Linked DNA regions of Homo sapiens. The protein of the gene in region 3 purifies or fractionates together with the protein of the main gene of each other region. This does not show direct contact. Each region holds a gene or a part of one and is shown on either strand. Other genes may lie near its edges.

Region 1 (7,022 bases), on a different chromosome or scaffold from region 3:
AGAGTCTTGCTCTGTCCCCCAGGCTGGAGTGCAATGGCTCGATGTCAGCTCACTGCAACCTCCATCTCCCAGGTTCAAGAGATTCTTGTGCCTCAGTCTCCTGAGTGTCTGGGACTACAGGCACGTGCCACCATGCCTGGCTACTTTTTGTATTTTTAGTAGAGATGGGGTTTCGCCACGTTGGCCACACTGGTCTTGAACTTCTGACCTCAAATGATCTGCCCACCTCAGCCTCCCAAAGTGCTGGAATTACAGGTGTGAGGCACCATGCCAGGCCAAGAAACTATTTTTAATCTTCATTGTGCAGATAAGTAAAAGAAGGCATGTAGTGGGTAAAGGCCTACTTCTGGCCGGGTGTGGTGGCTCATGCCTGTAATCCCAGCACTTTGGGAGGCTGAGGCGGGTGGATCACCTGAGGTCAGGAGTTTGAGACCAGCCTGACCAACATGGAGAAACCCCGTCTCTACTAAAAATACATAAATTAGCCGGGCATGGTGGCGCAAGCCTGTAATCCCAGTCACCCAGGTAGCTGAGGCAGGAGAGTCGCTTGAACCCGGGAAGTGGAGGTTGCAGTGAGCTGAGATTGCGCCATGGCACTCCAGCCTGGGTGACAAGAGAGAAACTCTGTCTCAAAAAAAAAAAAAGCCCACTTCTTCATTGCATCTTGTGAAGATTGAATGAGATAACAAGTGTTAGTTATTACTCTCAACATCTCTTCAAACCACCTTTATGCTTGCCTCTCTCAGACTCCTCTTCCTCCTCTCCCCACAGGCCTGTGTGGCCCAGCCATGCGCTCTCCCACTTGGGTCCCTGCCCTGGCCGCGGCCTGGGCTACCCACCCAGGTAGCCAAAGGAATCTTTTTTTGTTTTGTTTTGTTTTGTTTTGTTTTGTTTGTTTGTTTTGTTTTGAGATGGAGTCTCGCTCTGTCGCTCAGGCTGGAGTGCAGTGGCGCAATCTCAGCTCACTGCAAGCTCCACCTCCCGGGTTCAAGCCATTCTTCTGCCTCAGCCTCCCAAGTAGCTGGGACTACAGGCGCCCGCCACCATGCCCAGCTAATTTTTTTGTATTTTTAGTAGAGACGGGGTTTCACCGTGTCAGCCAGGATGGTCTCGATCTCCTGACCTTGTGATCTGCCCGCCTCGGCCTCCCAAAATGCTGGGATTACAGGCGTGAGCCACCATGCCCGGCCTGTTTATTTTGTTTTTGAGATGGAGTTTTGCTCTTGTTACCCAGGCTGGAGTGCAATGGCGCTGTCTCAGCTCACTGCAACCTCTGCCTTCCGGGTTCAAGCAATCCTCCTGCCTCAGCCTCCCGAGTAGCTGGGATTACAGGCATGCACCATAAGAGATGGGGTTTCTCCATGTTGGTCAGGCTGGCCTCAAACTCCTGACCTCAGGTGATCCACCCGCCTCGGCCTCCCGAAGTGCTGGGATTACAGGCGTAAGCCACTGCGCCCAGCCAGGAATCTTTTTTACACATCACTGTAATCCCCCCTAGCTCTCCAGTGCCCTTAGGTAAAAAATCCAATCTCCTCCAAATGGCCCATCCTGTCCTGAGACACCTATCTCCTGGGAACCTTTCTGGGACCTTCTTCCATGAACTCTGCCCTCCAGCAGTTAACCCTTTGCAATACTGCACCTCTGGTCCTCTGCACTTGCAGTTCCCTCTACCTAGATCACCCACCCCCTCTTGTTTTTGAGACAGAATCTCACTCTGTCACCCAGCCTGGAGTGCCATAGTACAATCACAGCTCATTGTAGCCTTGACCTCCCTGGTTCAGGTGATCCTTCCACTCGGCCTCCTGAGTAGCTGGGACCACAGGCATGTGCCACCACTCCCGGCTAATTTATTATTATTATTACCCATAGAGATGGGATCTTTCCGTGTTGCCCAGGCTGATCTTGAAGTCCTGGGCTCAAGCAGTCTCCTGCCTTGGCCTCCCAAAGTGCTGGGATTACAGGCCTGAGCCATGGTGCCCAACCTGAATCACTCCTTTTTTTAGACCCCCACTGTCCCTCTGAATCACCCTTTTTATTTTTATTTTATTTTCGAAGGAAGTCTCGCTGTTGTCCCCCAGGCTTGAGTGCAATGGCTCCATCTCAGCTCACTGCAACCTCCGCCTTCCAGGTTCAAACGATTCTCCTGCCTCTGCCTCCCAAGTAGCTGGGATTAAGGCACCTGCCACCATGCCCAGTTAATTTTTGTATTTTTTAGTAGAGACGGGGTTTCACCATGTTGGCCAGGCTGGTCTCAAACTCCTGACCTCAGGTGATCTGCCCGTCTTGGCCTCCCAAAGTACTGGGATTACAAGCGTGAGCCACCGCGCCTGGCCAAATCACCCCTTTTTAAAGCGAACTCCCTCCATTCCAGTCTCACCTGAGTGACCACGGCAAAGATGTTGGACTTTGTCATCAGGATCTGCAGGCAGCCCTCCCTGAAGCCCTTCCCACTCCCCACTGGGTTAGGAACCTCCTTTGGGCTCTCAGTGCCTGTGGGCTTTCCCATTACAGCCCTGATAACTCTGGCCTGTGAGTGTCCCTTCTCACAGCCCCATCACTCTGGGTCAGGAGCCAGACAGCCAGGTCATTACTGAGGTCCACACAGAGGGAGGAAAGGACCAGATCTCACCTCATCTTTTGCCTGGAGCAAAAACTCACTGCCATCCTGGGTCCTGCAGGAAGGGACACAGGACTTCAGAGATCTGGGGAAGGGGCCCAGCCCACCTGCCCACCAAGTGTCCCCCAGGGAAGCCAGGGTCCCACTGGGAGTTGAAGCTGAGCCTTGGATCCCTCCCTCCTGCCCATTGGGGGGCTCACTGGAGCTTGAAGACATGCTTCTTTTTCTTGTAGTCACTAGCCACCTCGCTGGTGGCCTTGTGCAGGCTGAGCAGCGGTTCCCCACCGTGTGTGCTCCCGGATGCCGGGCCCTTGGAGTCCTTGTAGAAGCCCAGTTCCCCCTTACTAAGCACACAGTACAGGCTCACCCACGACCTGGAGCGACAAGATGGGGCTCAAGGCAGAGCCGCAGCACTCTGCCTAATAACTCTTCATTAACATCCTCAAGGTCTGAATATGTCTGAGCCTTCCTACCTCTGGACCTTTGCGCCCTAGTTGCGCCCTAGTTGGACCTAAAATGCTCTTCCTTAAGGCTGTTGCTGCCCTGAGGGGAGCATTTAAGTCTCTCAGTATCAAGCCTTTGCCCAGGCTGAGATTTCCCTTCCTTATCCCCTCCCATACTGAATTTCCTGAAGGTAAGTCTTAAGCTGTCTCCTCCATAAGCCTTTGCTCCACTCAATCCTCCCCACTCATGGAGCTTTCTCAAGGAAAGTCTATTGGTCTACTGTCTGGAATAAAGAATTCCTGTCTCTCCAGTCATCCAAAGCCTCGATCCTGGAGGAATCCCTCCCAAAGCAAAACATACTAGGTGCCCTTGTTTATTCCTACCTTGGCATTAGGTACGAGGAAGAAAGACCACCTACAGATTCCACTAGCAAAATCTGAATCTGTCCTGCCCACTTCATATCTTGGGACTCACTCCATTACTGGCCGGTGATACCCCTTTTTGGCTCCACTTGTCCCCAGATTCTGCCTCTCAGTTGGACAAAAAGAGGGTGGACAAGCAGGAGCTGGACTCCCCAAGAGCAGGCACATCATGGCTAGACCCTCATTTGGAAACCTGTAAGAGATGACTCCCCCTTCCCAACCCCTACCCTCATTAGTTTGGGCTCTGCCCGTTTTCGGACCCTCCCCCAATTTGAAACTTCAAGGGTAGACCCACCCCACTCATTGGTTGAGTGACCTCTCCAAGCTCCACGACAAGCCATTGAAACCTTCTCAACTAGATGCCTCCCTCTTTGCTATTTAGCTGATCAACTCCTGGGTTGGTTGCTAAGAGGTTAGGTTCCAATTTACTCACTTTCAGAACATTTTCCTTCTGTTCCCACCTAAGCTCTACCCATCATCCATTAGATGCACTAACCTTAGGTCCTGCCCCTTCCTGTTCATTGGTTGGAATCATCAAAGTTGAGCCCCACCCCTCATCTGGCCCCACCTACTACCCCCACGGGTTGGAGGGCCTGACGTTAAACCACACCCCCTCCTGCTCATTGGTTGGCTTTCTTGATTTAAGCCACCACCACCCCCCAGCTCTGGCCCCACCTACTACCGCCACCTGCTGGAGGGCCTGAAGTTGAGCCACACCCCCTCCTCAGTCCCACCGCTCCACGCAATGGTCACCCTGAGCCTGAGACCCGCCTTCCAAAGCCCCGCCCACACGCTCACCGGTTGGACGACTTGCGGTTAGCGTCGAGCTCGCGCTTGCGCAGTAGGAAGCCCTCGTGCTGCACTGTGTGAGTGGGCGGTGGCGGAGGCGCGGGGGCGGAGCCGCCCTGGGCCGGGGCGGAGCGCGAGCGCCGGCTTCCCCCGCCCTCACCACCCTCTCTGGGCCGCGGCCGCCGTCGCGGCTTGGGCCGGTCCCGCGCCCGGGGCCGGTCCGGCCGAGGTGTCCGCTCGGGCAGCTCAAGCCCGTTGGGCAGGCGACCTGGGGGAAGCTCGCGTGGCTGAGGCAGCGACGGCTGTGTGAAGGGAGGGGGAAGAGGGGTGCTGTCCATGGAGAGGGTGTGGGGGTCATCTGTTTGGGGGAGTCATGGGTCTGGGGTCCCATCTGTCTACAGGGCCATTTGTCTCGGAGGCGAGTATGGGAGGACCTCAGGGTTGGAGGCCCAATTCTTAGGGCCCCATGGGTCTTGGGAGTGAGTCTGTTAGGACTCATTGGTTTGGAATCTCTCTCGGTGGTGGAAAGAGGCAGCCAGATCTCTGGAGGTGGGGGTGCAAGCAGGGCGTGTCCCCACTGTCTGCAGGAGAAACCTGGGGCTTCCTTCTGTGTGTGTGTGTATGAGGCTATGAAGAAATTTGGGACCCCACTGAGCTGAAGAAATACGGAGTCCAGGACAGATGTGGGAAGAGTCTGTGTGTGTGTGTCTGTGTGTGTATCTGTGTCTGTGTGTCTGTGTGTGTGTGTCTGTGTGTGTGTGTCTGTGTGTGTGTGTGTGTGTGTGTGTGTGTGTGTGTGTGGAGGGGCAGTAGGGGTCTCTTAGGTAGGTGCCCCGTCTTTCTAAGGGGGACATTTTCAGATTCTGGGGACCCTGAGAGTCCATGCTGTCTCTGCAGGGTCCAGGTAGGGAATGGGTCCTGCCAGGGCTAGGCACTGGCTGTTTCTGAGATCCTGCCTCCTGCTCTGAAAAAGGGGTCCTCCTATCCCCACCCATCCGAGGCTCAACTTACCCCAGCAGGCAGCCCTGGGCCTGCCTCTTTCTCCTGCAGCTGTTCCACAATGTCAGCCAGGGTGGCCTTCCTGGGGGATGGGGGACAGAAAGACCCAGTGAAACCAGGGTTCCTTCTCCCATGGACCTGTCTGGCTGGGCAGAGGAGCCTCCACTTCTTAGCTGGAAGTGCCAGGCCCCTGCCCACTTCTGCAGCTGTTTCTCTCAGATGCTCGCCTTAGGTACCACAGGTGTTTGGGACGTGTCTGCTGAATGGAAGACCAAACCTCTCGCCCCTTTGAATTTTTTTTTTTTTTTTTTTGAGACGGAGTCTTTCTCTGTTGCCCAGGCTGGAGTGTAGTGGTGCATGATCTCGGCTCACTGCAACCTCTGCCTCCTGTGTTGAAGCGATTCCCCTGCCTCAGCCTCCCAAGTAGCTGGTACTACAGGCGTGCGCCACCATGCCGGCTAATTTTTGCATTTTTAGTAGAGACAGGGTTTTGCTATATTGGCCAGGTTGGTCTCGAACTTCTGACCTCAAGTGATCTGCCCGCCTCAACCTCCCAAAGTGCTGAGATTACAGGCGTGAGCCACCGCGCCCAGATGCCCCTTTGAATTTTAAGCAGCACAAAGAACAACTTGCAAACGTTGCCTTTCTCCACCCACCCCTGACTCTCCAGTCCCCCAATCGCCCCCATTCCAGCCCAGATAATTCTCGGTCATCATTGATGACAAGCCTGTTTTTCCCAATGGACTGTGAGTCTCTAAAGTCAGGGATGGGACTGGTTCAGTCACCGCTCGACTCAGCACATGCCAGGCAGAGTGGGCACTCAGCAAATGTTCATGAAATGTGCAATTTAAAAAGAATCAAGAAGTCATTGTCTCCTGACCAAAGGCCTCTTTCTGGAGACACACTCAGCTGACTGGACAGATCTGCACAACACACACTGGCCAACTCTGGATTCTGAAAGTCCTGGTTCGTTTAAGCTGAGTGACTTGCCCTTTTTGTGCCTCAGTTGCCCTAGTCATACAATGGAGAAGACAACAGCCCCCACTTCATAAGGCTGCTGAGAGAATTGTGATAAAGGGTCTCCTCTCCAATCAAGGAGGTGAGGGTTCCACCATTAGCCCAGTGGGCAAACTGAGGCACAGAGAGGACAAAATCCCTGCCTCGGGGCACCCGGGAGACTTGATGCAGGAGTCACAACCCAGGGGCCGAGAACCTACGTCTGGAGAAAGGCAGTCTGCCTTTTCTTTCAACAGGAAGGGCTCCCCTTTCTGTGTAACAATGGGCACATCGATTATCTTGCAGCTTCAGTTTACACCTCTGCAAAATGGGTACCGCGGCGATATCTCCTTCTTTGGGAAGTTCTGAGCCCTGAAGCCCTTTCACTGGGCCTGAGGGGTTCTAGGAGCTCTCCGCTTTCCCCTCCCCTCACTTTCTGGTCATAAGGCGGGCACCTCACCCCTTGACCAGGTCTCCTCTGATGGGCATCTCCTGTTCGCTGGACTCCTGCCGCTCCAAGCGCCGCTCACGCCGCTCGCGCCGCCGCTCCATCTGCTCATAGCGGCCCAGGGTAAGGCTGTGTGCCGCCTCGTGCTCCGCTGACTCCTGCCGCTCCGGCCGCCGCCTCCGCGCAGCCTCCTCGGATTGATCGACTGACTCTTGCCGCTCAGGCCGCCGCCTCCTGGGCAGCTCCTCCGCGCGATCAGCTGACTCCTGGCGCTCCGGTCGTGGCCGCACCTGCTCCGCCGCCGCGG
Region 2 (8,002 bases), on a different chromosome or scaffold from region 3:
TTATTTTATGAAATAATGAGAATAGATAGAAGTTTTATTTATATTTATTTTTGTACCTTACACGGAAAAATTAAAAAGTTGATAAGCTTATGTCAGTTCCTAAAAATTCCTTGGAAATTTTACCAGTTCATGAAATAAAAAAGTCTGAGAACCAGTGATCTTTTACTAATTGATAAGATAGATTTGCAATAAAATATCAAGTAATTAGAATGCTCCTAGAATGGTCTTGTGGTTAATTAGATTTTCACATTGTAGGTTAACTTTTTGGTTTCAGCTGTGCTCATTCAGCTCAATTTGACATGCTGTACTGAAAGCCTCACTTATGCCAGTCATCATACTAAATGATGCCCATGCGATGATACATAATCCTGGCTTTGCTCTGTGAGAACAAACCAGACTAGTACAAGAGACAGGAAAAGAAACATTTAAGTTCTGTATTCAAAGTGATACCTATAACAAAATAGTATATATGTAGTAGAAAAGTAGCACAAAGAATAATTAAGTCAAGGAAGGGAGTGCAACTAGAGAAGACTGCATAAAGAGGGCAATGCTTCTATTGGGCCATCAGTTTGATGGATGGATTGAAGTGTCCTTCAGATGAGCAAAGAGGGGAAAGCTATTCTACACAAAGGGAATGGCATTGAAGCTTGAAAGAACATGATAGTTGATATTGAGAGAGCAGACACTTCCAGTGTCAAACGAGGGAGTGGTCAGGGAAGAAATTTGAGAAGAAGCCTATAGTCAGATTATAAAGAGACTTGTACGTTTTGCTGCGGTGTTTATATTCAGAATGTGCCTAGAGAAATCTCTAAAGGGTTTTAAGCAAGAGATAATTGGAAAGCTTTCTAAAAATGTATTAATATCCACATTCTACCCAGTAGGTGAAATATACTGAACACAATTGAATTTTTTACTGATAATTGCAGACCTTTCAGTGACATACTCAATGAATATCAGTTCTTATTTTACAAAGCAACACATTTAACTTTAGAGAGTGAAGGACTTGGACCTCCTCTGGGAGACCTAGGAGACTGTGGAACTATTTCCTGGAATTTTTTCATTAAATCAAACTACTGTGACTTATTTTCTTTTAACTTATTCTCATCAATATTAATGGGACAGGGGAAATGATTTTGGTTGACAGCTTCCATTAGTTGGATTTTTTTTTTGAAAAAAAAAAAAAAAAAAGACAGGATCTTGCTATGTTGCCCAGGCTGGCCTTGAACTTCTGGGCTCAAAGCAATCTTCCCATCTCAGCCTCCCCACTAGCTGAGATTACAGGTGTGCACCATCACACCATGCTCTGGATTTTTAAAAATTTTACTATAGAAAAATCTCTGGTGAATACATAGTCTCCACGCAAGAGCTTTGAAGGAAATAAAGGGTAAAAACTGTGCCCCTTATAGGTGGAGATTCATGACATACTCTCTGGAGAATGGATACATATTCATCATTTTCTCCCTATTCTTTTTTTTTTTTAGACGGAGTTTCACTCTTGTTGCATAGGCTGGAGTGCAATGGCAACATCTCAGCTCACCGCACCTCCGCCTTCCAGGTTCAAGCGATTCTCCTGCCTCAGCCTCCTGAGTAGCTGGGATTACAGGCACGCGCCACCCCGCCCAGCTAATTTTGTATTTTTAGTAGAGACGGGGTTTCACCATGTTGGTCAGCCTGGTCTCGAACTCCTGAGCTCAAGTGATTTACCTGCCTCGGCCTCCCAGTGCTGGGAATACAGGTGTGAGCCACTGCACTTGGCCCCCATTTTCTCACTATTCTTAACACATAATAGTCGCTATATAAGTGTGTGGTGAACTGGAAAGAATTTCCAATAGGAATGGTAACATAATTTTTCAGAGGAAAAATAATTACTGGTTAAACTATGGAACCTCTTTGAGGGGTACATTTGCATATAAACAGGGAGAATAGTGATCATAACATATTTCACTTTTTTTGTATTTTTTATTTTTGACACGGAGTCTTGCTATGTCATCCAGGCTGGAGTGCAGTGGTGCGATCTCAGCTCACTGCAACCTCCGCCTCCCGAGTTCAAGCCATTCTCCTGCCTCAGCCTCCCGAGTAGCTGGAATTACAGGCATGCGCCACCACGCCCGGCTAATTTTTGTATTTTTAGTAAAGACGAGGTTTCACCATGTTGGCCAGGCTGGTCTTGAACTCCTGACCTGAGGTGATCTGCCTGCCTCGGCCTCACAAAGTGCTGAGATTACTGGCACGGTGTGAGCCATGGTGCCTGGAGGTATTTCACCATTTAAAAGACTTTAACAAACATCTATATACAATAATTTAAAAAGCTTTATTTACATTAGCACATTGGAGAAGGGTGTGTGTGTGTGTGTGTGTGTGTGTGTGTGTGTGTGTGACAGAGTGAGACTCTGTCGCCCAGGCTGGAGTACAGTGGTGCAATCTTGGCTCACTGCAACCTTCGCCTTTCGGGTTCAAGTGATTCTCCTGCCTCAGCCTCCCCAGTAGCTGGGATCACAGGCCTGTGACCATTCCCACCAGCTAATTTTTGTATTTTTTGCAGAGATGGGGTTTCGCCATGTTGCCCAGGCTGGTCTTGAACTCCTGGCCTCAAGTCATCCACCTGCCTTGGCCTCCCAAAGTGCTGGGATTACAGGCGTGAGCCACTGCACCCAGCCGAGAAATATTCTTTTTTTAAAGAGTGGGGATTGGGCTTAGAATGAGAAACTAAGGTAGAGAGATAAAGTCTCTCTGAATGAGAAAGTACAACTTGTAAAATTCTCCAGGGTTAGAACTGGGGCTGTGTTCATCAACACTGAACATTCTTAAGAATAACCTCTACGTTGTAAGCTCCAGGTTTGTAGATTTTTAAAATTCTTCTTTGCTGTGAAATGCCAGTAGGAGTATTAGTACCAGGAAGTTGCATGTGTGGGCTAAAAAGTGATAAATGATCCTATTGTGGGCAAATATGAAATATTTAGAGAAAAGAATAACACAAATTATACTTGAAAGGTGATAATCTCAGCATAGTTGGTTCAATGCAAGTAAGAGAATCTAGAGGTTACTGTAGACTGCCTTCTCTAGTTTATATGCCCAGTCTGCTAGTGCAGCAAAAGAGGGCAGTAACAAGCTGGATATCATAGGGCAGGTGTTTTAGAAAGAACCTGAAAACATCACTTAGACCTTGAACAAAAGCTGCAGGTGTGTACATGCCTGAAACACTGGATATCTTTATCTCCAGAAGATCATACTAGATATCAGTACATAGTATCTTCTTCTTCTTATATTCTAATGTAGAATATTAGAACCCAGAAGCAGTCTCAGAGTTTGAGAGTGGTAAGTGAGTAAACCAGAAGTATTAGTTTAGCTTGGCTGCAGTTTTATTATACAGTAAAATCAGAATAGGCTAAGCATAGGGATTTAGTTATAGGGACTTAATAGGGAGGATGTGTGTATCTGTGAAGGCCATATAAATGCAACCCAGATAGTTCATCGTCTCTTGCCCCCACTAGTGATACCTAAACCACCTTCCTGCAACGTTCCCTTTTGTTTCCTGCTCTTTCATATTTTCGGGAATCCTCATGAAATTTTTCACCTGTATTTGGGGAAAAGTCCTATGAACTACCAACTACTGATGTTTACTTACCCTTCTCTGTCATCATCAAGCCCCTTTTCTAGGGTACTGCTGAGCACTGACACTTCCTTGGCACCATTAGATTATACTGGGGTATCACTGCAAATGTACTAAAGCCCCCGGGGTACACAGTCTTCAAGGTTCATCGGCAAAGAGGGAGAGAACACATAACCATTTTCCCCTAACATTCTTAGATGGGTACCGAAGCTGTACCTGTACTCAATTTTAGTGGAAATAAACCTTTTAGTTCTTACAGCTCCAGTGGGAAACTGGGGAAACTCTAAAGCAGACCCCGCACTAGGCTTCCCCATAATTTCTTCTCTTTTCAATGCGTGAGGTTCTGCTCCATGGTCAAGCTTCTGGTATCAGATTCCCTCTTTCCCTTAGACAGACTCGTTTTCTCCTGAGAGGCATCTCAGTTGTTCAAGTGACCTGGGGTGTTTTTCCTACAGTTCTAGCAAGGGGGAACGAAGTCCTACACTTTGAGGATGGCATAAGGGTACCATCTACTTAATTTTTTCAAAAAAGTAACAGGTCTCGTGGAAACGCGGGAACGTCACAGAGGACGTGACTTAAACGGAACTTGTAATGGAAATGATTTTCTAAATGAACAATTGCGAGACAAGCAAGGAAACCTCCAGGTTTGCAGATAACTTGATTAAAGCTCTTCCGGGTGGCAAAATGCCAGTGCAATCAATGGTATGAGTAGGGCGGACAGTGGATGAAACTTGTTGAGTAAATCTCAGGAGGAATTAGCACTGGACTTTCAGGTATTCTAACTCAATTCTAACCATTCCATTCTCTGGATCATTGGATAAGGTTCCGCAGGATCCGGGCGCCAGCTCTGGATACATTACTGATCGGGAGAAAATTTTGAATTTTTCTCTTGTCCCTTTCCAGCTTTCCTCAATATAGGATATGAGTTTGTCCTCGACCCCTAACAACATTTAAAGGTAAAGTCGCTCCTAGAAGGCAAAGCGGAGAGGACTTTGCGGCTGTGTTTCTCAAGCCCGTAAAGAGAGAGTAATAATGGTAGGGAGCGTGCAGACTAGCTCTTTCCTTGCCCAATCAAGTGTACAGGAAGATGTCCTTTCACCAATAAAAATAAAGTTCGCTTTCCGGAGGCGGGAGGGTGAGCCTTGACTGCCAGGGCTCCAAAGCAACGTTAGAGGCGAGGGCAGAGAATGATTAGAGGGAAGACCAACCCGGGAAAAGGGGCGGGGAGAAGGTAGGAGCAACTTTGAGCGGCGGCTGGCCAGGCCAGTGGAGGGCGAGGACTGCTGTTCCTGTTGTAGTGTTTCTCGCCAATCAGGAAGGCCAGGGGGCGGGCGGGGTAGGGAAGGGGTGGGAAGACCTCGCAGCACAGCCGGGCGCCCGTCGGGCTCTGGGAGAGAGCGAGAGAGAAATCCGGTTAAAATCAGAGTCGGAGGGAGGTTTAACCACAGATCGGTTCCGATCGGATTATTCCTTAAAGGGGACGCGCCATTGTCAAGAGAACGGAGCCAGGGGCCCGAGGGCGGGGACCGGCGGCGCTGGAGGAGCGAGGCAGCTGTACTAGGACTGGGAACGGGTAGGTGTTGACTGGGGAAAGGCGCTTCATTTTACTTTCTCTTCCAGCCCCGGGGCAGGCGCCGGGATGCCCGCCGCCGGCAGCCCAGCCTGGGCGGGAGACGAGGTCGTCGGCCCTCGCCAGCTGTCCTTCCTGGTGGGCGCCGAGGGAAGGCGGTCCAGGATGGCTGGCAAGCGGCGCGGCGCGGCCCGGGCCGGCGCTCGTAACGGACACCAAACCGCGGCGCAACCCCAGCCTCAACCGAAAGCCCGCCCGAGCTCCGGCGGTTCCGCCGGCAGCGCCGCGCGCCCGTCTCTCCCGCACGTCCCCTTCCCCTCCAGTGCCTGGCTCTTCTCGCGCGCGCCCGGGTACCCCTCGCGCGCCGCCTTCTCGCGCGTCCTGCTCTGGTCGCGCGCCGCCTCGCCACCGACTCGCGGGAGCCGCCCCGCGGGAAGGAAGGCGGTGGCAGAGGTGGAGGAAGACCGGCGACCACGGCTCCGCCGCCTCGGCTGGGAAGGGAGGGCTGAGGAGCAAACTTAGCGCGGCGGCTGGCGGGCCCCGGCGGGCAGGGCTGGCGGGGACCGGCGGAGCGCGCCAGCCCAGCCGGGCATTGTCCGCCTTTTCCCTTGCTCTGGTCTCTCCGCCCACTGCTCGCGGTCCTGGGGAGGGGTGCGGGCGCTGTGCCCGCGCAGCCCCGGGCCGTTGGCGTACCCCGGGACCCGGAGTCTTCCGGAGCCGGAGCCAGCCCTGCGGACACCGCGGCCACCGCCCGCGAGCTGACTCGGCCTGTAGATTGCCTGCTGCTCTCAGCCTCGGCACCGGGCAGGGTGCCTGGGCGCTGAGCTCTTCTTTGCAACTTTTATTTGCCGTTTGATGGAAGTTGTTGCTTCCGGGCGGCAGGTTCTTTGGGCACAGCCTGGTTTCCTGCGTTCTGGAGAGGCTGGTTTCTAGGGCGAAATGATTTATTGCTGCCGGTCTTTCCTGCCATCCTAGTTTAGTTCCTCGCCACCTAAAATCGCATTTTTGTGGATTTGCAATGATATGGGAGCATTAATCTTTCCTAGGCCAAGATTTGAAAAGAAAAAAAAGGGGGTGGGGGTTAGGGTGTGTGCTGGTGAGGAGCAAGAGTTCTTAGTAGAGCTGAGTTTGCCCTTACCTTTGAACTGCGGAAAATATTACTTCGATTCACTGGCTGGGGTTCTTTTGGAAGGGTAGGGGAAAAAAGACACAGCAAGACAGGTTGCCAGGGTCTGTCGGATTGGGGGGGAAAAAGGGTTTTGATGGAAGTAAAGTTGGTTTTATAAAATGCTGTGCTGCCTAGGAGATATCGTCTGTAAAGTTGATTCTGCTACTGAATTTACAGCCATTATAATTAGTACCAACAGCTTTTACTATTGATAAAAACTAGTATAAGACGTCTTTTCATCTTGAGCATTATCACTCTGCTTAATCTGTCAATACTTGCCGAGGAAATCAGAGATAGCACATTCCTTGTTAGAGGCCTTAGTGAAGAATGTTTTCATAAGCATTCATTTTTGACAGTTTCTTCTTGTGCAATACTTTATGTAGAGTACTTGCATGTGCAAGTTACAACCGTATAAACAAAGTAGCAGTGGGTGTGTTATTCTCTGGTCTTTTTTCTGCTACTCATTATCAAAAATAGCATTCCATCGTGTCTTGTCTTCCACTCTGAATTATTTTGTAAAATTAGTTCTCTAAAAGAGGGAATTCTGTTGGAACATGTGACCCAGTTTTTTTTTTTTTTATTAAAGCAGTCCAACTTTTTAAAGCGTTCATCGATTAATTTATTGTCTAGTAACTTCGGAGTGGTGTGGAACATTGTAAATTCACAGGCTCAGCAGTAACAATAGAGAAACTACTTGGGAAATTGGAAGCCAATATCAGATAATGTTTGAAATAAAAATCTATTCTTCTCACAGAATTTAGGAAATAAAGACACACAAAAACAAATTCTTTGGGTTCAAGTGATCCTCCCACCCCAGGCTCCGTAGTAGCCGGGACTACAGGTGGGCACGACTGCGCCTAGCTAAAATTTTTATTTTTTGTAGAGATGGTGGTCTCACTTTTTAATTTTTCGTATAGACGGCTGGTCTCCAACTCCTGGCCTCAAGCGATCCTTCTGCTTTGGCCTCTCAAAGTGCTGGGATTACAGACTGAGCCACCGTGCTTGGCCGTTTGTAGTAATCTTGATGGTATCTGGCATTGTTTCACCTAATATTTCTTCTTTTTTGTTTTTTTCTTTGATCCATTTCTGTGATAAGGATGTCAGGCAAGCAGCTAGGCATAATCTTCCTTCCCATCTCATAATAAAAGGAGACGGTTAAACCAAGTTTTTAAATGTCTGTCTTTGTTTACTTACCAATTTATTTAAACAATAAAAGAATTTCTCAACTTTTAGAAGAGAACATATGAATAAAACATTCAGAAATAATTATCTTTGAAATATCTAGACTGTATTTCCTGAAAAAGACTTTTTCCTCTTTTGTGCTTTCTACATTGTTTTAAACACATTGTTTTATATGCACACATTTCTTGAGTTATGAACTGTTTCTTGAGATCCTTGGGAGCCAGAATTATCCTCCATTTCTGTGCAGATTCACTGTATCACCTCGGACCTTTTTAGTACCCAATAAATGTCTTATTTTAGGTCTTTGTGACAGAAAAAGATAATGTCCTGTAAAGGCCGCTTGAGTTATTTAATTTTTTAAATAAACACCTTTCTGAACATTTTATACTAAAGGCCAGCAATTGGCTTACTGTTGGGGGAAGATATGTCAATCTAGAGGTTCTTTGTTCTGTGTACAAAATTGTGATTTGTT
Region 3 (7,022 bases):
GATGGCTGCATTTTGTCTAGACTGTGGAGTAGTAGCATCATGGAAGAAAATCAGTTTTCCAGAACCTTTAAGCTGCATGAATGCCTGTCATTTTACCAAGGGAAGCTTAGGATGAATTTTTTTTTCCCTGCCTGAGGTTTCTTTGTACAAATAGCACAGGAGGACCCCAGCCCCACAGCCCCATGCAGATGGCAGCCTGGCGGGGGGTCGCACCAGTCCTGTCCTCACGTTGGCAGATAGAGATATCTACTCTGAAGCCTCTGTAGGGGCCTGGGCACCTTTGGGAGCCTGAGCTGGAACTGAAGCTGGAGCTGCAGCCTGGGCCTTGGTTTGATCCTTGTCCTTGGCCTTTGGCCAGCACACCCTGAGCCCCTTGGCAATGCGGGCACGAGCATGCTTCCCAAGCTTGGGGTGGACAGTGTAGGCAAGTTGAGCTTGCGGCTGACACCCTTTGGGATCTTGGGCTTAACCTCCTTGGGCTTTAGGAGGGCCTTGATAGCCTTGGCATGTGCACTCATGGCCTTGGCACTGTTAGCCTGCATCTTCTTTAGGCCCTTCTTGTTGTGTTTCTTGGCAAACTGCATGTTCCTCAGGAACTTGGGGTCCACCCCCTTAAGAGATTCGTATCTTTGTGCTTCGGGTTTCTTGATACCATTTCTGTGCCATTTTTGGGACTGGTTGTGTGTGGTGTGGTTCTTGGACTTGGCCATGTCTGCACCTTAAGGCGCGGCTCCTGAAGCGCCTAGAATCTGAAGAGACAGGATGAATTTAATACTAAGGGGGCTGTTGTTTAAAGTGGGAAAGTTAGCACCACACATAACATGCATTTAGACACTTAGCATAATTAATTTGTTTATAAATGAATGTATCTGCCCTTTAGTTAATAAAGTTCTATATATGGACTGAGGAGAAAAAGGAGCGAGCATTTTGTGGTGCTATTTTTTTTTTTTTGGAAAGCCTGTATTTGGGGCTATGACCCTTTCTCATTGATAGTGACTTGAGTAGAGAGAGGAAGGGTAGATGGAAGTAGAAGAGCATACAGCAAAGGCATTTGCTGACGTTTCCACACTTTATGCGTATTTATGCCTAATAAATGTTTGTGGAATTAGCATAGCTGCCTGGACCTATTTCAAGCAAAAGGAAACAGGGCTTTAAATGGCTTTTAAAGCTTTACCTTGGCAATCCATAATTACCTTACTGTAATAGATATCTAAAATTTAATACTGTGGGTAAAGTGTTTCACATATTACAACCTTCTTTTTTTAAACTAATGTTAGGTTATAATAAGGATTTATCTTCGTCTTAATTGTAGATAATTATTGCAAGTCTAGGGGCAGTCTAAGCAAAGGAATTATTTTTAATAAAATCAGTGATTGGGCAGAAAAAAATTATGGCTCCCCTAATAGTAGTTTATGAACTTTTTGGAAATGGAGAAGAACAGCTGAAACTTGACAGTTGGCAAAGTCTGTCAAAGTATCTTGGATGTTGCATGAACTGTTAATTGCAGTGAAGGCAACTAAAGTATGGGTTTGTAAAATAGGTGTATCAGATCCCCTAAAAATTAAGGCATTCATGTATGTAAAATGAAGTCTCTGAAAAGTTTTGAAGCCTCAGTGAGGAGCCCCTGTTAGGTATGACCCCCACCCCCACCTCCAAATAGTATCTCATAATGACAGCAGTGAGTCAGTAGCTATTTCAGAACTATCACAGTAGGCAACAGAAATCAAGTAACTTCAACCACTTATTTCATGAAACCCTTTGTTTTTACTTAGCTCATTTTGGCAACCTAGTGCCATCAGCAATGGTAAAGAATTCTTTCCCTCCCTTCCCTTATTAAGAGCTACTTATACATAAAATGGGGCTCTCCCTGCTAATGGAATCTGTTAATGCTGTTTCTGATTTATCTCACCTGCCTATGGGAACTTCTGGAGTCCTTCCTTCCCCTCTTTCCCCAAATAACTTCCAGAAGCATGGAAATGAGTGCTGCTACATTGCAGCCCAAACTGAGTCTCTTTGCTGAAAGATGGGAAGCTGACACCTCCTTCTGCCTCAAACTGCAGGGTTCTGCTCTCTAGGGGTTGTAGCAAAAATGTGAAAATCTTGATCCAGCACTATAAATGGGTTTTATTGCAAAGATAACCACCCTATCATATCTGACAATAGACAACTTAGATGCAAGTCCTTAATTCGTCATTTGTTCATTTTACCAACTTTGAACCTTTGTTATAGTGCGTGTACTTACCTCAGTGCTGCTGATAGGAAGGCCAATACAATGTGCTCCTTCCCTTAGTGAGTTTATACTTTGGAAGTTGGGCAGACAGTCAAGCCTAAAATTAAAATGTGCAATGAAATTTTGTAGGAGCTATAATGTAGGGCATTATGGAGACACAAAGTGTGTGTTGGGGGGGCATTAGCTGCTGAGGGAAGGATAAAAAGGCTTTGTAGAGGAGGTGATAGTTGTTAAATACTGAAAGATGAGTACAAGTGAGCCTCTTAGACAAATAAGAGGGCATTCAAGGCAGAGAGAACAGTGATTGACACCACTAAAACGAGGAACTGCAAAGGAGTTTGGCATGACAAGCTTGTTTGCTTGAGCTAGCTCCCTTTGGTGTAGCAAGAGATAGGTCTAGAGCCTTATTATGCAGGGACTGGGTTGGAGAACCATGTAGATCAAATGAAAGATTGGATTATCCTGTAGTTTAGTGTGTTTAGAGGTTTTTTTGGCTATGACCCGTTGGAAAGATAAGCATCTTTACATTGCAACCCAATATGCTTGTATATAAATGATAAAATGTCACTACATAATACCCTTGCTTTGTATGGTACACTCTGGTAGTTTCTATTCTGTTCCGTTCTATTTTATTTTTAAGATAGACTGATGATGGTGACCCACTCAATTTATTTAATGACGCTGTGTTAGCAACTGGTAATTTGAAAAGCACTTCTCTTCTGTGTGAAGATTACTAAAGGGTTTTAAGCAGAGTAAGAACATGATCAGGGAAGTAGAATAAGAAAGCAATTTTAAAAATCATTTACAATTTGGTTTTGTGTCTTGTATCCTGTGGAAACACCAAGCCAGAACAATGAACTCTGGCTGGGTAGAGGAAGTGGACAGTTGGGCAGGCCCTGGAAGGTTCCGAAGTGGGGAGGGGAGGGATGGTGACTGAGAGATGTGTAGTTGGCTGAACGGGGCTTTTTCAGAATTAGGACATTTCATTGGAGAGGTAAGAATGTAGCAAAGAGCATGGTATGTTCTTAGCAGAGTCACTAACTATGGGTCATAAAATAGTGAATTTGGGAGTTAAGGGGTTGACAGAAGAAACTGTCCTTATTCATAGTTTATAGTTTTGAGTGATTAAACATCTCAGAAGAAAAGGTGGTTATATCCCAAAAGGTCTAACCTCTCTACTGCCATGTGATTTTTTTTTTTTTCAGTCTTTAGTGTTTAGTTGAAGTATTTATTTTTAGTTACTGGATTGTTATTTCAGATTAATATGACTAACTGGACAGAAGAGTAGGGAAAATGAGTGCCGAGTGCTTAATGTTTTCTGATATAATTTTTTTCTGATGTAGTTTTTAAATGACTATAAAACATTTTACATAGATTTATATCTCAGGTCGTATCTCGTGGAATGAAATGTGCAGTTTTTTTGTGTTGCATATTTGTAATGCCTTATGACCCGTGGCTAATATTTCTGTTTGTTTTTGAAAAGTTGAGTGATTTTGAGGCATTGCAAAGTTTCAGGTCTGTTAAATATGTTCATTTCAAAAGAATCTACATGTGATAAGGAATATTTATTTAGATTTTAGCCCATCTACCATCTAGAAGAATTGAGATAAAATTTTCACATCTATCTTACTGAATGAGTATTGCAAGAGTAGGTAAAACTGTTTTTTTTTTGTTTTGGTTTTTTTTTTTTTTTTTTTTTTTGAGATAGAGCCTCACTCTGTCACCCAGGCTGGAGTGCAGTGGCGCGATCTTGGCTCACTGCAACCTCCGCCTCCCGGGTTCCAGCATTTCTCCTGCCTCAGCCTCCCAGGTAGCTGGGACTACTGGTGCGCGCCACCACACCTGGCTAATTTTTGCATTTTTTAGTAGAGACGGGGTTTCACCGTATTGGCCAGGCTGGTTTCGAACTCCTGACCTCGTGATCTGCCTGCCTCGGCCTCCCAAAGTGCTGGGATTACAGGCATGAGCCACCGCGCCCTGCCAAGAGTAGGTAAAACTTTTTAAAAGCTAATCATTCAATGGTCTTCAGTATGTGAATAAAATCATATATATATATATTTTTTTGTTTGTTTGGTTTTGTTTTTGAGACAGTGCAGTGGCCCATGCTGGAGTGCAGTGGTGCCATCATGGCTTACTGCAGCCTTGACCTCTCAGACTCAAGCAATCCTCCTACTTTAGACTCCCGAGTAGCTGGGACTATAGGCTCACACCACCATGGCAGGCTAATTTTTGTACTTTTTGTAGGCATGGGGTTTCATCATGTTGCCCAGGCTCGTCTTGAACTCCTGAACTCAAGTGATCCGTCTGCCTTGCTGTGAGCCATCACGCCTGGCCAAAATCATGTATTTTAATCTTAATTTTTACAGCACGCCTCTCCATAGTCTATAAAATTAGGACATCCATAATGACTCTCTGTTAAAAGAGTCAACTTTATTGATGAACTTATGTTCTTAATTTTAGCATTTCATACCTTTTGATACTCCTTTTTCCGTCTGTCCTGAGTGTAACACATTTGTCATTTCTGTGCTCCTTCATGAAATGTCTGAGAAAGGAAAAAAAGATGAAACTGATAAGAATCAATGCTGTTTGTTTTAAGCAGTATTTTTGAGGGAAATTATCAACACATATAATCTTTTTTGCTTTGCCTTTTTCTTCTACTTGGATTTTTTAAAATCTTGTTTTTGAAAGTTTTTATCGCTTGAACCTGTGAGGCGGAGGTTGCAGTGAGCCGAGATTGCCCCATTGCACTTGAGCCTGGGCAACCAGAGGGAAACTCCATCTCAAAAAAATAAATAAATAAATAAATAAAAGTTTTTAAAAATTTGTTCACTTCTCTGGTAAGTACAATTTAGAATTAATTTAATTTTTTTTGTCTGCTAAACATTTCAGATAATAGAATTAATTTTATAGGGTCATCTTTTTTACTATTCTTTCAGTGAGGTTTTGTCCGCCCAAAAATGGATTGTGAAGCCAGTATGGCTCTTGCGTAGCTAAAATAATTTTATACATAGAACTAACATTTGACTTAGTTAATAACTGAATCTTATTTACCCTTATTTATGTTTTTTTCTATTAAGGTAGACTACTAAAGGAAGGCAAAAAGTCATTGTTTTCTGTCTTGTATCAGAAAATAAAATTGTTTATAAAACCCCCCAAAACCAGTAATCTAATCAATGTTTTATCTTCATAGTACACTTACCTTTTCATTTTCTCTACCTTTTAAAAAATCACCTTTATCTCTTAACACCTAATATTAATATTAGCTTTAAAAATTAGCTTGGCTTTACGAACATCTTATTTTAATGTTCTTTCATAAAACAAGAAGAGTTTCAATGTTATCTTTTGAGAAGTGTTGGCACCATGTCCTCAAGGCACAAAAGTTGTAAGAATTGAGGGCTTTCTGTAAAATTACCAAGCAAGAGTTAGGTAGACATTAAATACAAACAAAAAACTGTGCTTAGGGAACACAATTTCATTACTTTACAAGATCATTGAAAGTCATGTTTATTATGTCATGTCTATTGGCATGTCTGGATCCATGTGGTCACATGCCTCAGAGTCCAGAGGCCTGTAGAGGAGAATGTCCATGATTCCCCCCCTTTCCATAGAATGGTTTGTTCCTAATTTCTCATTGTCTAGTTGGGGAGTCTTTTTTGAAACAGAGTCTTGCTGTGTCACCCAGGCTGGAGTGAAGTGGCACCATCTCAGCTCACTGCAACCTCCATGTCCCAGGCTCAGATGATTCTCCTGCCTCAGCCTCCGGAGTAGTTGGGACTACAGGTGCACCACCACACCTGGCTAATTTTTGTATTTTTGGTAGAGATGGGGTTTCATCATGTTGGTCCTGACCTCAAGTGCTCCACCCACCCTGGCCTTTCAAAGTGCTGGGATTATGGGCATGAGCTACTGTGCCCAGCCTAGTTGGGGAGTCTTAATAGAAGTCTACTGAGAGACATAGCTCTGATACATATCTCTTTGGGTATTATACGCTGTGCTTCCTAACCCACAAGTTCATAGTGCAGTACATATGTGCAATATTAGTTGAAAGGATTTGGGGGAATTAGTGCTCATAAATAGAAAATCCTGATTTCTAGCAATTAGGCCGATAGTTGGATATACCAATTATTTTTCTGATAATTTTTCTAAGTAAATTTTTGGATTCTTTTATATTTACGTATATCTCAATCTTAAGTAGTTATTGTCTTTCTTCTGTTTTATTTAAGTATTTATAAGAGTTGTTCTGAACAAGACTTTCTTTGTGTGAGTTGGAATTTTCTGCCCAGTTACTTTCTAGCTTCCCTCATTGGCTCTTAGTAATGATCTTTAGGACATGACTATCAAAGACCTCAAAATACTCATATTAGGAATTTCTATCAGTCAGTCTTCCTGGAAGATAAGTCTGTACATTCCTAAATGTATATGGGACAAATATTTTGAACCTATTATAATATTTAAGTTGCTTAGCCTATCCCTTTACCTTTCTGTGCCCTTTTTTTTTTTTTTGCTTATTCTTTTGTAAAACAGTGCTGTTTTCTTTCTTACTCTGTTATGAATCACTGTCTCATGGCTTTTAACATTAAAATTTGTGTGCTTTGCTTAATCACTCTGCCAGCTCCCAGGATGTTTACAGATTGAGGATTCCTCCTACTCTTGTTTACTGAGTATTGCCAGGGTTCTGTATACATTAAGCTCAGTGGGACTACTCCCAAGTCACTCTTAAACTCGTCTTTCTTGAGATTCTGTTGATTTAAAAAAAAAAATTCTAGATCTCGCAGGCTGCTGTTTTCCTTAC
Region 4 (7,022 bases), about 98 Mb from region 3:
AAAGGGTACCACACTGACCTGCTAGAATGTCCACTGTCACTCTCACGTGAACTATACTTGAAGGGCCAGATGGGACTATAAAATAATGGTAAGCTCCTTCAGACTTTACCTGAAATGTTGATAACTGGTGAAAATAAATCAGCTCAGGGGGTTCACAACACTATTCTGTCTACCTGCATGTGTGTATGTTTGAAATGTTAGCAAAAAAATAAACTTTATCAGGGCTGGGTGCAGTGCACTTTGGGAGGCCGAGGTGGGAGGATCACCTGAGGTCAGGAGTTTGAGACCAGCCTGGCCAACATGGTGAAACCCTGTCTCTACTAAAAATACAAACATTAGCCGGGCATGGAGCCGTGCACCTGTAATCCCAGCTACTTGGGAGGCTGAGGCAGGAGAATCGCTTGAACCCAGGAGGCAGAGGTTGCAGTGAGCTGAGATGGCGCCATTGCACTCTAGCCTGGGGGACAAGAGTGAGACTTCATCTTAAAAAAGATAAATAAATAAAAATAAATAAATAAATAAATAAACTTTATCAGGCAGGGTGCGGTGGCTCACGCCTGTAATTCCAGGACTTTGGGAGGCCGAGACAGGTGGATCACGAGGTCAGGAGTTCGAGACCAGCCTGACCAACACGGTGAAACCCTGTCTCTACTAAAAATACAAAAATTAGCTGGGCATGGTGGTGCACGCCTGTAATCCCAGCTACTCAGGAGGCTGAGGCAAGAGAATCGCTTGAACCCAGGAGGCAGAGGTTGCAGTGAGCTGAGATTGTGCCATTGCACTCCAGCCTGGGCGACAGAGCAAGACTCTGTCTCAAAAAAATAAAAATAAATAAATAAATAAACTTGGCTGGGTGAGGTGGCTCACACCTGTAATTCCAGCACTTTGGGAGGCCGAGGAGGGCAGATCATGAGGTTAAGAGATCGAGACCATCCTGGCCAACATGGTGAAACCCCATCTCTACTAAAAAGACAATAAATAAATAAATAAATAAATAAATAAATAAATAAATAAATAATAAACTTTATCTGCTGGGTGCGGTGGCTCATGCCTGTAATCCCGGCACTTTGTGAGGCCGGCGGGTGGATCACCTGAGGTCAGGAGTTCAAGATCAGCTTGGCCAACATGGTGAAACCCCATCTCTACTAAAAATACAAAAATTAGCCAGGCGTGGTGGTGGGCGCCTGTAATCCCAGCTACTTGGGAGGCTGAGGCAGGAAAATCACTTAAACCTGGGAGGCAGGCCGGGTGCAGTGGCTCACGCCTGTAATCCCAGCACTTTGGGTGGCTGAGGTGGGCAGATCATGAGGTCAGGAGATCGAGACCACCCTGGCTAACATGGTGAAACCCCGTCTCTACTAAAAATACAAAAAATTAGCCGGACGTGGTGGCGGGCACCTGTAGTCCCAGCTACTTGGAGGCTGAGGCAGGAGAATGGTGTGAACCTGGGAGGCGGAGCTGGCAGTGAGCTGAGATGGCGCCACTGCACTCCGGCCTGGGCGACAGAGCGAGATTCCGTCTCAAAAAAATTTAAAAAATAAAAAAATTTTAAAAAACCTCACTCTGAAAGGATAAATAAAATGTGGTATATCCATACAATGGAATATGATTCAGCCTTCAAAAAGAAGGAAATTCTGATGCATGCTACAACATGGATGAATCTTAAGGACATCATGCTAAGTGAAATAAGCCACACGCAAAAGGACAAACACCGTGCGATTCCACTGATAGGCAGTCTCCAGAGTAGTCAACTTCATAGAGACAGAAAGTGGAATGGTCGTTGCCAGGAGCTGGCGAGTGGGGAAGGGCAGAATTTGTGTTTAATGGATGGTGGTGGTGGTTATCCTACAATGTGAATGAATTTAATGCCGCTTAATGAAATGCAGATTTTAAAATGACTGAAATGGTACATTTTATGTATTTTGCCACAGTTACATACATGTGGCCAGGCGCGGTGGCTCACGTCTATAATCCCAGCACTTTGGGAGGCCGAGGCGGGCAGATCAACCGAGGTCAGGAGTTCAAGACCATCCTGGCCAACATGGTGAAACCCAGTCTCTACAAAAACACAAAAATTAGCTAGGCATGATGGTGTGCGCCTGTAATCCCAGCTACTCAGGAGGCTGAGGCGGGAGAATCGCTTGAACCTGGGAGATGGAGGTTGCAGTGAGCCAAGATCACGCCATTGCATTCTACCCTGGGCGACAGAGTGAGACTCCATCTCAAAAAAAAAAAAAAAAAATACATGAATCAACTTATGAAAAAAAGATCTTACCCAGCTCGTTCTCCACCATGTTCTTTATGTGGCAGGTGGCAGGTGTGTGTTGAATGAATGACTGAGGATGGAGCTTACCAGCCACACATCATCCCCACCCCATCCAAGGGCAGATGTGACTGGAGTGACTTAATGCTGCTGCCTGCAGGACTGTCTTGCCTCCTCTCTCTCAGCCTCCTGTGGGTGACTCCGGAGCCCGTTTGAGTCCCCACAGCCATGCATCTGCCCATTACAGTCCCAATCCAGATGAGTATCAACCCACCTCCCTTCCTGAACTGAGCCATGCTCAGTCCTGAATGACATTAGCTATTTCCAAAATACTAAATTCAAAGCATGGAGATGTGACTCTGCTGTGATTCTCAGGGACCAATCCACAGGACCTACGGGCCATTCCCAATGTGTGGAGATTCAGACAGTACCCCTGGAACAAAGGGGCTGCTCCCAGGGAGATGCTGCTCCCAAGGAGATGGTACACACTGCCTGCAGATGCTCAGCACTGGCCCAGGCTCACCCATGCCGCCTGCCTCACTCCTGTGGCCCCTCAGAGTGCAGAACAGTGTCTAATCGCCGAGAAACCCCAGGGCAGGGGAGGGGGAGCCTGGTCAGTGAGGGTCTGGGTCTAGATGGAGTTTCTCTTCCAATCTAGAGCACAAGCTTCTCCAAAGTAGTCTTTTTCCACGGCCAGAGGCCAGAGCCCCACGTGATGAGGTGCCAGGCCTCATGCTCCATGGCACCCTGTGCCCATGCAGCTCCCCAGAACAGCCACCACTGTCCCTGAGCCACTGATCTCCCCACAAGGCCCAGGAACACAGGGACCATTCTCACTTCCCTGACCCAGAGACCGGGAGCCTTGGCAAAGAACTTACAAAGATAGACTGCTCCTTCAACCGCCTCTTGGCCTCTTCCGCTTCTAAAGTCTGCTGTTTCCTCCTGGAACGATAAGCAGCCAGCACCCGTCAGGGTGCGCCCGGGGGCCCCTGGAGCGCTCCGGGCGGGCAGGCTCACCTGTGCTCCTCGATCTGCTGCTCCCGCTCCCGGTAGCGCCGCTCGCGCTCCTCTTGCTCCTGCCGCTCCTGCTCCATCCGCTCCTGCTCGAACCTGAGCCTCTCATCCAGGGCCTTCTTCCGCTCCTCCTCCTTCCGCAGCTCTTCTTCCTTCTGCAAGCCCCGGTGCGAACAAGGGTAGGCCCCGAGCCTAGGCGCCTGGACCCTGCCCCTCCAGCCCCTCCCTAACCCAGCGCTGGGGGCGGGGCACGTGGCATGGGCCATGCCACTGCAGTGAGGGACTCAGACCTGCCCCATGGGGTCCATGAGGGGTGGCTCAGCCAGGCCGGGCTCAGGGTTCCATACCTTGGCCTGCTCCCAGAACTGCTCTCGGTTAATCCGCTTCATTTCCACAGCTGCATCCGTCTTCTGGTAGGTGGTGCCCTGCAGTGTCGAAGGACCCAGCATAAGCAGGCTGAATGCCCCAGGAACCCCCGACACCTAAAGGGTGAGAGCTAAGAGGGACCGGGCAGGCCAGACTCGGGCACCAGGCCACGCAGGCAGAGCCCACGGGTGCCAAACACACACTAACCACGGGCTCTGCGTTCTCATCCTCTCGCAGCCGCAGTCGGTGCAGCACAGGGCTGGAGAGTCGCGCCAGCCCGTTAGAGAGCCGCTGCCCGATGGCACCCGCGTCTATGTCTTCCACGCTGCTGGCGTTCACGATCACGTCGACACCCTTCCGCAAGAAGACGGCAGTGCTCAGGCGGCACCATCCTCCCGCCATCCCCACCCCAGCACGCAGACCCTGGTGGCTGTCCCCACCCCCAAGAGCGCTGGCCCCTGACACGCACCTGGAAGAACTCCGCCACCTTAGCCACGTGGCTGGCACAAGCGCACTTGCGGGCATCAGGCACATCTTCGCCCACCTGCAAAGTACCCAGCAAAGAGGGGGTCAGGAAAGGACAAGGGGGGCCCTACACGATAGGGTGCATCTTCCCCGGGGTGGGAAGAGGGTGGGCTTCCCTCTCCACGGGTGTCAGAGGGCCGACGGGGAGGGCGACTGCTCTGGGCCTTCAGTTCCCTTCCCCAGCCCCGGCCGCATACCCAGTTGATGAGCAGCTCTGGGCCCTCAGCCCCCTTCCCCAGCCCCGGCCGCATACCCAGTTGATGAGCAGCTCTGGGCCCTCAGCCCCCTTCCCCAGCCCCGGCCGCATACCCAGTTGATGAGCACGTATTTTGGCAGAGCAGCTTGGGAGTCCTTGACACTGCAGAAGCCGTACATCACCTTCTGGTTCTCAAAGTGTCCCGAAAGCTCCTGCAAGCCCCCTTCTAGGGTAATCAGGAGAGTGTCAGGTCTCTCTGCCTCCTAAACCCTTCCCAAAAAGAGCCTGGAACTCAAAGCAAAGACTCCTCCAGGCCTCCACAGGCACCCCCAGGGGTCTTCTGGCCTCTGGGGTCTGTGGGTCCCAGTTTTGTGTTGGTATGTGTGGGGGTGGTGGCGCACAGGGATGTAGCTTTGCCTGTGACTCCTGCAGGGCCTGATTTGGGGGTAGGACTGAGGAAGTGTTTGTTCTTCACACTCAGGTCTCATTCTTCACACATCATCATGTCTCACCAGGTGCCAGTGCCCAGAGGCACAATCAAGCCTTCTGGCTCTGGGGAAGGCGGTGAATAGGGCCCTTCCCCCAAAGTGTCCCAGCTGTGTGGCTTCAGATAAGTCACTTTCCCTGTTGGAGGCTCAGCCTCAGAAGTCCAACATTCAACAAGGCTCTGAGATTCCTCCCCACCCTGGGGACACAGGGATGACTGGAGGAAGGACACCCGCCAGATCCAGACAAGTGTGGGGCTGCAGGGTGCAGGCAGGGAGGTGGCCTACAGCCAGGTGGGTGGGGAAGAAAACAACCAGGAGGAGGGGGTGGAGAAGGCGGCGAGGGAATGGCTGGAATTCCTACCTCCTGATGCTGCAAGCTTGAGGTCATCGGAGCCATCTTCATATGTGTACAGAGCCCTGGGGAGAGGGAGGGGTGGCTGTCAAACTGTCAGGGCCCAGGCCGCCAATTCTGGGTGGGGACGGCTCTGGGGAGGGAGAGGGACATGGAGTGGGTAGGACAGGAACGGGGAGGGCTCCTGCTGTAGCCATGACAACAGGGCCAGGCATCGGTTCAGGCGGGAGCCCAGCAGGGTACTGCTGGAGGCCTGGGTCAGGGGGGCGCAGGCAGTGAGGGGAGAAATTGCTGGCTGGTCGAGCTCAGTGCGCAGCATCCCGGCCCTGGCCCTGGCAGCCTACAACCCAGTGGAGCGGGTGTGTGATGGAGATTCCAAGGCGACGGTTCCTTGGTTACCGTTCCCTGGCTACCAGGATCCTCATCCCCCATTGGCTAGTGCCAGGAACTTACCTGGCACGTGCCTTGGTCCCCGCTGCCCCTCCCCCGGGGAGGGAGGAGGAGAAGAGAGAACCTGGTGCTCCCAACAGCTCTGGGCATCCCCCAGTAACCATGGCAACCCTGCAATTGGCACACGACTGGCCCACCCCAACTGCATTCTCCTTGAACACAAAGGACCCTGGGGACCCGCCCTCAGCCTCAATCTCCGCCTCTCTGAAATGGGGATGAGGTCACTGCAGTCACTCTCGCCCAGACTCTGGCCCCGGGGTGGCCAAGCCTGAGCTCCAGGCCTTCCAGCCCCTAGGCTGCCTCAGTCCTGGCTGAGGCTTCCTGAGACTGCTGGCCTTTCCTTCTGTCTGAGCTCTAACAGAAAGCTGACCTGGTGGCCTTCCTCCTTCCTCCTCCTCCCTAGCTTTGTGTGCCCTGGCTCCTTTTGATAGGCTGCGGTGACAGAGCAACCATTGCACAGAAGGGAAGGCAGAGATGCCTCCTCCATCACCCCATGCAGGCCCAGGCTGAGGACCCTCTGGGAGGGAGGAGAGCCGGGGCCTAGGAGGAAGGGCCTTGTCCCTGAAGTTTGAAAGGGCTCTCAACCCCTTCTCCAAACTCCTATTCCCCAGGTGCCAAGGCAGGAGGCTGGGGCTGTGAGGAGGGGAGGCAGAAAGGGAGGGCAAGGGAGAAGAGAAAGAGGAGGGGAGAAGCAGAGGGAGAAACCAGGAGAGGAGGAAGAAGAGAAAGGACAGAAGTGAAGGGACAAAGGAAATGAAGGCGGGAGGGATGGAGGGGACGTCTCAGGAGGTTGTGGCCAGGGCCAAATGGCCTCAGCCCCTCCCCTTCCTGGATTCCCGGCTTCCTACCTCCAGGAAGGAACACAGGTGGGCTGTGGGGCTGGGAGCTCCTGGTCCAACTGTTACCCCCAGCCCCAGCCTGGCCCTGACAGATGCTTCCAGCACAGCTGGCCCACCACCTGTCCTGCTGCCCTAACCCACCACGGGAACAAAGGGCCCTGGGAGAAGCAGGCTCTGTCTCTCTCCATGCACTGATGAGAAACTAATGCAGAGCCCAGGGACCCTAGTTCCTAGAGACTGCTGTAGACATCAAGCCTCCCTCTGAGAGGACCTGTCTTGGCCTGCCTAGGCTCCCCGGGGTGCCTTCCATCCTCAGCCCCTGGCTCCCCACCTCCGGCCACCTCTTCCTGCTCCAGCCGCAGCTCTCCCCCAGCAGAAACCATACCCCAGTTCAAACCCTCCAGCCTGCCTTTCCATTGGACCACCCTGTCCACACCACACACTTGGGACACACTGGACGGCTCCCTGACCCAAGCAGGGTTCTGGACAGGGCTCACCCTGAAGCCTCTGCCTATGTAGTTCTCTTCAC

The links.
Region 1: the proteins of HOMER1 (region 3) and SPTBN4 purify together in Homo sapiens (affinity purification with mass spectrometry; 3 studies listed by BioGRID and IntAct, with this or other methods). This does not show direct contact.
Region 2: the proteins of HOMER1 (region 3) and FRYL purify together in Homo sapiens (affinity purification with mass spectrometry; 3 studies listed by BioGRID and IntAct, with this or other methods). This does not show direct contact.
Region 4: the proteins of HOMER1 (region 3) and DBN1 purify together in Homo sapiens (co-immunoprecipitation; 4 studies listed by BioGRID and IntAct, with this or other methods). This does not show direct contact.

Annotation. Positions count from the first base shown.
Region 1 is NC_000019.10:40,567,988-40,575,009, reverse strand, and holds part of SPTBN4 (spectrin beta chain, non-erythrocytic 4), read right to left. Parts: coding exon 6,728-7,022; intron 5,354-6,727; coding exon 5,284-5,353; intron 4,575-5,283; coding exon 4,282-4,574; intron 2,992-4,281; coding exon 2,818-2,991; intron 2,673-2,817; coding exon 2,630-2,672; intron 1-2,629.
Region 2 is NC_000004.12:48,777,259-48,785,260, reverse strand, and holds the start of FRYL (protein furry homolog-like), read left to right. Parts: upstream 1-4,981; 5' UTR 4,982-5,183; intron 5,184-8,002. UniProt on the Homo sapiens protein: Plays a key role in maintaining the integrity of polarized cell extensions during morphogenesis, regulates the actin cytoskeleton and plays a key role in patterning sensory neuron dendritic fields by promoting avoidance between homologous dendrites as well as by limiting dendritic branching.
Region 3 is NC_000005.10:79,504,122-79,511,143, reverse strand, and holds part of HOMER1 (homer protein homolog 1), read left to right. Parts: intron 1-126; exon of another isoform or gene 127-757; intron 758-7,022. UniProt on the Homo sapiens protein: Postsynaptic density scaffolding protein. Binds and cross-links cytoplasmic regions of GRM1, GRM5, ITPR1, DNM3, RYR1, RYR2, SHANK1 and SHANK3.
Region 4 is NC_000005.10:177,463,631-177,470,652, forward strand, and holds part of DBN1 (drebrin), read right to left. Parts: intron 5,270-7,022; coding exon 5,214-5,269; intron 4,591-5,213; coding exon 4,478-4,590; intron 4,188-4,477; coding exon 4,113-4,187; coding exon of another isoform or gene 3,998-4,112; coding exon 3,851-3,997; intron 3,703-3,850; coding exon 3,625-3,702; intron 3,433-3,624; coding exon 3,281-3,432; intron 3,206-3,280; coding exon 3,142-3,205; intron 1-3,141. UniProt on the Homo sapiens protein: Actin cytoskeleton-organizing protein that plays a role in the formation of cell projections. Required for actin polymerization at immunological synapses (IS) and for the recruitment of the chemokine receptor CXCR4 to IS.